Linked DNA regions of Homo sapiens: region 2 is reported to be linked to region 1. The links are microRNA targets in miRTarBase. Many come from high-throughput screens and were not tested one by one. Region 1 holds a microRNA gene; the other region holds the end of a gene's coding sequence.
What was found. Region 1 holds the annotated microRNA hsa-miR-6722-5p (AGGCGCACCCGACCACAUGC, at 2,000-2,019, shown strand). A microRNA usually pairs through its seed, bases 2 to 8, with sites in the 3' UTR of a target mRNA and lowers its output. Matches are read on the target gene's strand: a 7mer-m8 pairs with bases 2 to 8, a 7mer-A1 pairs with bases 2 to 7 and ends in A, and an 8mer does both.

Region 1 (4,134 bases):
TATTTAATGATTGAAACAAAAGATATCCAAAACCGCAGTTCCTGAGAACCACTTGTTCTCGCCCTGGTTCCTCTCCTTGGGCTTGACCTTGGCCTCCTGCCGGGCCTGGCAGCGGACAGCAGTCTCCCTGCTTCCCAGGCTGGGCGAGGGAGAGCGTGGGTCCCCAGGAACGGGGGAGGTGGTGCGGCTGGCTTTAGGATGCCCATTCTGGAACCTTCTGGTGGAAGAAAGCAGGGGATCAGTATAGTATGGTTGATCCACACACTCCAGACCCTCTCCTGGCTGTGCAGCTGGTCTGATCTGGGCTCAGAGGCTGCCACTGCTCAGTGCTCCCCTGGGTAATTTTGCAGGAGGCCAGGAGGGTTCCTGGCAGTTAGTGCCACCCACACGGAGAAATTCAGAGCCATATAAACGGGTCTCCAGGGCCTGGAGGGACTGCACATCCTGGGCCTGCGGCGCAGTGTAGACCTGGGAGGATGGGCGGCCTGCTGCTGGCTGCTTTTCTGGCTTTGGTCTCGGTGCCCAGGGCCCAGGCCGTGTGGTTGGGAAGACTGGACCCTGAGCAGGTACAGTCCTCCTGGGGGTGGGGAGAGCTGGTCCTCGGGGGCCAGCCCCTCCTTTAAGGCCACACAGCTTCTGGGCCCCCCAGGGCTAGCCCAGACCAGCATGAGCAGTGGGGAATTAGTTGGGCCAGCCCTTGGGGAGTCCCACAGGCAGGAGCCTCAGGGCAGGAGGGGTGGATGCTGGAGGGTTGGAGGCTGGAGGGCTGGAGAATTGGAGGCTGGAGACTGGAGGTTGCAGGGCTGGAGGGTGTAGGGTTGGAGAACTGGAGGCTGGAGGGCTGGAGGCTGTAGGGCTGGAGAACTGGAGGCTGGAGGCTGCTGGGCTGGAGGCTGGAGGGCTGTAGAACTGGAGGCTGGAGGGCTGGAGGCTGGAGGGCTGCAGAACTGGAGGCTGGAGGGCTGGAGAGCTGGAGACTAGAGGCTGCAGGGCTGCAGGCTGGAGGTTGGAAGGCTGGAGGGCTGGAGCCTAGAGGCTGTAGGGCTGGAAGGCTGGAGGCTGGAGGGTTGGAGGTCTGGGGGGTTGGAAGCTGGAGGCTGGAGGGCTGGAGAACTGAAGGCTAGAGGCTGCAAGGCTGGAAGGTTGGAGGCTGGAGGGCGGGAGGGTTGGAGACTGGAGGCTGGAGGGCTGGATGGTTGGAGGGTGGAGGCTGGAGGCTGCAGGGCTGGAAGGCTGGAGGCTGGAGGGTTGGAGGCTGGAGGCTGGAGGGCTGGATGGTTGGAGGGTGGAGGCTGAGGCTGGAGGTTTGGAGGCTGGAGGCTGAGGCTGGAGGGTTGGAGGCTGGAGGCTGGAGGCTGGAGGGCTGGCGGCCCTAACGGGAGCCGCCTCAATGCAGCTTCTTGGGCCCTGGTACGTGCTTGCGGTGGCCTCCCGGGAAAAGGGCTTTGCCATGGAGAAGGACATGAAGAACGTCGTGGGGGTGGTGGTGACCCTCACTCCAGAAAACAACCTGCGGACGCTGTCCTCTCAGCACGGGTGAGTGGGCGGGTCCTGCCAGGCCTTCCCGCAGGCAGGACTGTGGCTCAGCCACATCATGTACTTTGCACATCTGCTCCCGGGCACCGCGGCCTGGGGGCTTCCCACGGCCCCTCTGCACCCCCGTCACTTTTCCCACTGGGCTCTGTGCAGAGCCACCAGCCCTCTGCCCAGCTACTCACATCTGTGTCCCTGGGGCCTCCAGGTGGCACTCCCACCTTCAATACCGCGGCGGGCACTGCTCTGACTATGCTCCTTCATGCATCCCTGTCCTGGGTCATCTGGGCTGCAGGCTGTGGTCAGAGCTGGGGAAGCCTGTCCTCTCAGCAGGCCTTTTTCGGGAATTCTGTTTAAAGGAGGATAATGCATTCGGACCTAAGAACCACTGGTTCTTTCATAACATAAATCCCCAAACAATATGGTCATGGACGCTGTTGGCCAGACTGGCCTTGTGGCCTCAGGCAGGCGCACCCGACCACATGCATGGCTGGTGGCGGCGTGCAGGGGTCGGGTGGGCCAGGCTGTGGGGCGGCCGTGCTACACAGGGGACACCTACAGGGCAGCCGGGCTGTGGGGGTAGCCGTGCTGGGGCAGGAGTCGGTGCCCGCCTCCCTTCACAGAAGAGTGGCCTGCTGGGTGGCGTGGTGGGTGTCTACCCCCTGGCAGGCTGGCGACAGAGCCCAGGCCTGAACCACTGAGCCAGGTACGGGGCCCAGAGAGAAGAACCTGCCCTCCTCACCAGCGTGCCTTCCCCCTGCACCTGCGCCTGCAGGGTATGGGCAGGGGCCCCACTGCACCCCCCGGGCCAGGCCTGGCCTCAGGGCGAGCTGGGACCAAGGGGCTCCAGGCTGAGGTGGCAGCTCCCACGTGGCTTTCCTAGTTCTTCTTGCTGTTCCTCCCGCATGGACTCAGCCTCAGTTTCCTTCCTTGGCAAACACCATTGCACCTTTGCTGGGTTTTGCTCACTCTGGGGACTGACCACTTAGGGAGCGCCGGCCCCTTCCCCCGAGTCGCAGGCAAACCCCCACCCCGCCCCATCCTTCCCCTGAGTCGCAGGCGAACCCCCACCCCACCCCATCCTTCCCCTGAGTCACGGGCGAACCCCCACCCCGCCCCATCCTTCCCCTGAGTTGCGGGCGAACCCCCACCCCGCCCCATCCTTCCCCTGAGTCACGGGCGAACCCCCACCCCACCCCATCTTTCCCCCGAGTCGCGGGCGAACCTCCCGTCTGTCGAGTCTCCTGTTGTGTCCTCAGCAGCATTCAGCGTTCCTGGTGGAGATCTGGCACTGAGGATCTCTCAGGAAGTGAATGGGAGTGTCCGCCCCTCTCAGGACTCCCACGCCGTCCACTCTCCGAGAACAGGTTTCCGGGCATCGGGGCATCTGGCAGAAGATGGAAGCTCTGGCCTCACTGCTGGCTGGCCTGGCCTGGACTCCTGAGCTCCGTCTCCTCTCACCGGGCCCCGGGGTCTTGACCCTGAGTGGGTGACAGGCCCCTTCTTTTCCAGGCTGGGAGGGTGTGACCAGAGTGTCATGGACCTGATAAAGCGAAACTCCGGATGGGTGTTTGAGAATCCCTGTGAGTCTGACGGCCACGGCCTCACCCAGGCCGTTCTTCCCTGCAGCATCCCCAGGCCCCCTGCGGGCAGGGACGGAGGGCTGACTCCGCTCCCGAGAGCCAGGAGGCTACAGGTTCTGGTCTTGGGATTGCTGCCCATCCTGAGGGTGAAGAGAAGCCCCTGGACAGAGGATTGGAACCTTGTTCCCAGCAGGCTCAGACACCAGTGAGGTCCAGCCAAGGTCCCCATAGGTGCAGAGGGCGAGGGGCCTGTTTAGTGGCTGTCTACAGGTACAGGGCTGGGCTGGTGTGACCCAGCCGCTCCTCGTTCACACCTGGGACAGGCTGGGGCAGTGCTTGTCTGTCTGTCCGTCAGTGTCTGAAAGCCCCTTGATGCTGGCACCAGGTGGGGTCGGGGGTGGGGGACAAAGCTTGGGGGCTCTGGGTGTGCTTGGAGGGGTCTCCTGGGGAGGGGGGCTCTCACTTGAATTGGCCCCTCTGTCCCTGTGGCCAGCATCAGCTCAGCGGCCCCTGGATGGATACAGCAGCTGCCCTCCCCTGAGGCGGGGGGTTTTGTTTCCTAGCAATAGGCGTGCTGGAGCTCTGGGTGCTGGCCACCAACTTCAGAGACTATGCCATCATCTTCACTCAGCTGGAGTTCGGGGACGAGCCCTTCAACACCGTGGAGCTGTACAGTAAGTGTGCTGTGCGGGGCCCACGTAGGGAGCTGTGTGGTGCGTGGGCCACTCGGGGCCCACGTTGGGAGCTGTGTGGTGCGTGGGCCGCTTGGGGGCCGCGTGGGGAGCTGTGTGGTGAGTGGGCCGCTCGGGGGCCATGTGGGGAGCTGTGTGGTGAGTGGGCCGCTTGGGGCCACATGGGGAGCTGTGTGGTGAGTGGGCCGCTCGGGGGCCATGTGGGGAGCTGTGTGGTGGGTGGGCCGCACAGGACCACATGCAGGCCAAGTTCCCCCACCTTGAGGCTCGCTGCACTGGAGGTGGCTTTGGAAGGACCGGGGCCAGCATCCCAGGGCAGGTGGCCT
Region 2 (4,000 bases), not on the chromosome of region 1:
AAGCTCTGCCTCCCGGGTTCACGCCATTCTCCTGCCTCAGCCTCCCGAGTAGCTGGGACTACAGGCGCCCACCACCACGCCCGGCTAATTTTTTTGTATTTTTAGTAGAGACGGGGTTTCACTGTGTTAGCCAGGATGGTCTCGATCTCCTGACCTCGTGATCCGCCCGCCTCAGCCTCCCAAAGTGCTGGGATTACAGGTGTGAGCCGCCATGCCCGGCTAATTTTTGTATTCTTAGTACAGACAGGGTTTCGCCATGTTGGCCAGGCTGGTCTCAAACTCCTGGCCTCAAGCAATCCGCCTGACTCGGCCTCCCAAAGTGCTGGGATTGCAGGTGTGGGTCACTGCACCTGGCCTCTTATTATTATTATTATTTATTTATTTATTTATTTATTTTTTGAGACAGAGTCTCGCTCTGTCGCCTAGGCTGGAGTATAGTGGCACGATCTCGGCTCACTGCAAGCTCCGCCTCCCGGGTTCACGCCATTCTCCTGCCTCAGCCTCCCGAGTAGCTGGGACTACAGGCGCCCACCACCACACCCAGCTAATTTTTTGTATTTTTTAGTAGACACGGGGTTTCACCGTGTTAGCCAGGATGGTCTCCATCTCCTGACCTCGTGATCCGCCTGCCTTGGCCTCCCAAAGTGCTGTGATTACAGGCGTGAGCCACCGCGCCCAGCCTATTTTTTTATTATTATTATTTTGAGACAGAGTCTCACTCTGTCACCCAGGCTGGGGTGCAGTGGCACAATATCAGCTCACTGCAGCCTCTGCCTCCCAGGTTCAAGGGATTCTCATGCCTCAGCCTCTTGAGTAGCTGGGACCACAGGCACCCGCCACCACGCCCGGCTAATTTTTGTATTTTTAGTGGAGATGGGGTTTCACCATGTTGGCCAGGCTGGTCTCAAACTCGTAACCTCAAGTGATCTGCCTGACTCGGCCTCCCAAAGTGCTGGGATTACAGGCGTGAGCCACCGCACCCGCCTAATTTTTAAATGTTTTTTGGTGGAGACGGGGTCTCACTCTGTTGGCCAGGCTGGTCTCTAACGCCTGGCCTGGAGTAAGCCTACAGCCTCAGCTTCCCATATCACTGGGATTACAGGTGTGAGCGAGTATACCAGCCACCACACTGCTGTTTACCAGAGACTGGAGACACACGAGCACCTGGCCTGGGCACTGTGGGAGGTGGCTTTGGGGATGGTGCCTTTCTGGGTGGGTCCGGGATGCTCAGGAGTCCCTTTCTCCCTCATCGCCCAGGAGCAGCCAGGGCTTCCTGCATCTGAAGTTCGCGCGGACCCGTGAGAACCAGGTGGTGCTGGGCCAACACAGCGGGCCCTTCCCCAGCGTGCCCGAGCTCGTCCTCCACTACAGTTCACGCCCACTGCCGGTGCAGGGTGCCGAGCATCTGGCTCTGCTGTACCCCGTGGTCACGCAGACCCCCTGACAGTGACCCTCGGCCCCCTTTTGAGTCCTCGGGCCCAGAATCGTATCCCAAAGCCCTCCCATGGCCTAGAAAATAAATAAGTTATTGTTTGTCTTAGTGTCCTTTCTGGGCTACAGAGGGAAGTGGGATCGTTGACTCCCAGCGGGAAAGCCCTAAGCAGCCCTGGAGAGGGGGATAATGGGGTAATTGAAACCCTGGAGGAGGCCAGGCACGGTGGCTCACGCCTGTAATCCCAGCACTTTGGGAGGTTGAGGCAGGCAGATCACCTGAGGTTGGGAGTTCGAGACCATCCTGACCAACACGGAGAAACCGCGTCTCTACTAAAAATACAAAATTAACCGGGCGTGGTGGCGCATGCGTCTAATCCCAGATACTCGGGAGGCTGAGGCAGGAGAATCGTTTGAACCCAGGAGGCGGAGATTGCAGTGGGCTGAGATCGCACCATTACACTCCAGTCTGGGGAACAAGAGTGAAACGCCTCCATCTCAGAACAAACAAACATAAAAAACCCTCGAGGCCTTGAGGGCCAAGCACATCCCCAGCACTTTGTTTTGGGGACAGAGTTGGGATTGGAACCTGAATCTCCCATAGGGAGGGACCAGAACTCAGCAAGAGACAGAGCGTCGTGGAGCAGATTAAAAACCGCACTCCATAGAAACCGACAGATACAAAGATGGAGAAACTGAGGGGGGCCAGGCTCTCGGGCCAGCCCCGCTCCCTCCCCCCGGCAGCAGTGGCTTGATCTGCAGAAAGGACATCTGTCCCCATGGAAACAGCAGAAGTAGGGGAGGGGAGCTGGGCCTAGCTGGTGTCACTTCAAGGTGACAGGCCAGGCAGGCAGGAGACCTGGGGGGCTGGTAAACACCATGAATCTCCTGACCTCCCCTTCTTCTCCCCACCTCCAGGCCTGCCTGGGAGTGATGCCAGCTGCGGGGGGGGTCTTCCATGGCAGGGGACTGTTTGGAAGCCAGAGTACCACTTCTTCCTCCTTGGATTTGTCCCTATAAGGTGGGAGGGGGGCTTTGAGTTGCCACAAAGTCCCTTGGCCACAGTGGGCCTCTCCAGCCACCCCTGAGAGCTCTGGGACCCCAGATGACCCCTTAAGTCTTTTTGGTGCGTGTATGTGACAGGGTCTCACTCTACCACCTAGGCTGGAGGGCAGTGACATAATTAGAGCTCACTGCAACCTCAACCTCCAGGGCTGAAGTGGTCCTCCCCTCTCAGCCTCCCAAATATCTGAGACCAGAGACATCAGCTGCACCATCACGCCCGGCTAAATTTTGTATTTTTCGTAGAGACGGAGTTTCACCATGTTGGCCAGGCTGGTCTCGAACTCCTGACCTCAGGTGATCCGCCCACCTCGGCCTCCCAAAGTGTTGGGATTACAGGCGCAAGCCACCGCGTCTGGCCTTGTTTTTAAATTTTCTGTAGAAATGGAGTCTTCTTGCTCTATTGCCCAGGCTGGTCTCAAACTCTTGGCTTCAAGTGATCCTTCCACCGCAGCCTCCCAAAGTGCTGGGATTAGAGGCGTGAGCCACCGCACCCGATTTCTTCAGATCTTTTTAGCACTCCCAAATCGCCACAAACACCAGCTTTGCTTTTTCTTCACAAGCCTTTATTAGGTTCTTGGGGGAAAGTGGGAGCGAGATCCATCATTACAGAAATGAGGACGGGGTCTCAGGATGGGGCTGACAGGCTCCCAATCCTCCTGCTTTTTGTTTTTTTTGAGACGGAGTCTCACTCTGTCGCCCAGGCTGGAGTGCAGTGGCGCAATCTCGGCTCACTGCAACCTCCGCCTCCCAGGTTCAAGCCAGGCTGGTCTCAAACCCCTGACCTCAAGTGTTCCACCCGCCTCGGCTTCCCAAACTGCTGGGATTACAGGCGTGAGCCACCGTGTCTGGCCTCGATCCCCCCTTTTTTGTGTGTACCTATGGGTGGGGTCCTGTTGAGGTCTCCTGGGATCTCTCACTCCTCTCCCACTTTGGGGAACCCTTTTGGCCTCGGCTGCTGGGTGGGGCTTGGTCTAGGAGAGACCCTGACCATAGAGACGGGGTGGCCGGGCCTGGGGCTGGGGCAGGGTCTCGGGCTGGGGCAGGGTCTTGACGCCAGGTGCGGCTGGCGGGGGGCCGGTTGCGGGAAGGAGGTTGAATAAATGCTCTGGCCCCTCTGGTCCTTCCCCTCTCCAGAGCAGTCCTCACTCTTCTTTGGGGCCCCCCGGGGCCGGTATAGGACGTTGCTGTAGAATGCATTTCCTAGGATGGATGACACAGACCAAGAGGATCACTTAAGAGAGTCCTGCCCTCTCCAGCTGACCTCTGGGGGATCTGTCTCTTTTTTTTTTTTTCTGTGAGACGGAGTCTCACTCTGTCGCCCAGGCTGGAGTGCAGTGGCGCAATCTCGGCTCACTGCAAGCTTCGCCTCCTGGGTTCACGCCATTCTCCTGCCTCAGCCTCCCAACTAGCTGGGACTACAGGCTCCCGCCACCATGCCTGGCTGATTTTTTGTATTTTTAGTAGAGACGGGGTTTCACTGTTAGCCAGGATGGTCTTGATCTCC

Region 2: miRTarBase lists TMIGD2 as a target of hsa-miR-6722-5p. Seed matches in the 3' UTR shown: 7mer-A1 at 3,210-3,216.

The regions. Positions count from the first base shown.
Region 1 is chr9:136,744,826-136,748,959 of GRCh38, reverse strand. MIR6722 (microRNA 6722) reads left to right here and starts at 1,990; the gene lies at 1,990-2,067. It overlaps LCN6 (lipocalin 6), which reads left to right and starts at 435. Exons shown (of 7, transcript NM_198946.3): 1 at 435-566; 2 at 1,397-1,536; 3 at 3,046-3,116; 4 at 3,680-3,790. The coding sequence starts at 477. LOC100128593 (a long non-coding RNA gene) reads right to left here and starts at 2,799. Exons shown (of 3, transcript NR_033913.1): 1 at 2,759-2,799; 2 at 388-1,882; 3 at 1-214.
Region 2 is chr19:4,289,190-4,293,189 of GRCh38, forward strand. TMIGD2 (transmembrane and immunoglobulin domain containing 2) reads right to left here. Exons shown (of 5, transcript NM_001169126.2): 5 at 3,038-3,696. The coding sequence ends at 3,410. It overlaps SHD (Src homology 2 domain containing transforming protein D), which reads left to right. Exons shown (of 6, transcript NM_020209.4): 6 at 1,258-1,533. The coding sequence ends at 1,444. Among named protein-coding and RNA genes, the nearest start is that of TMIGD2, 11 kb to the right of the region's middle.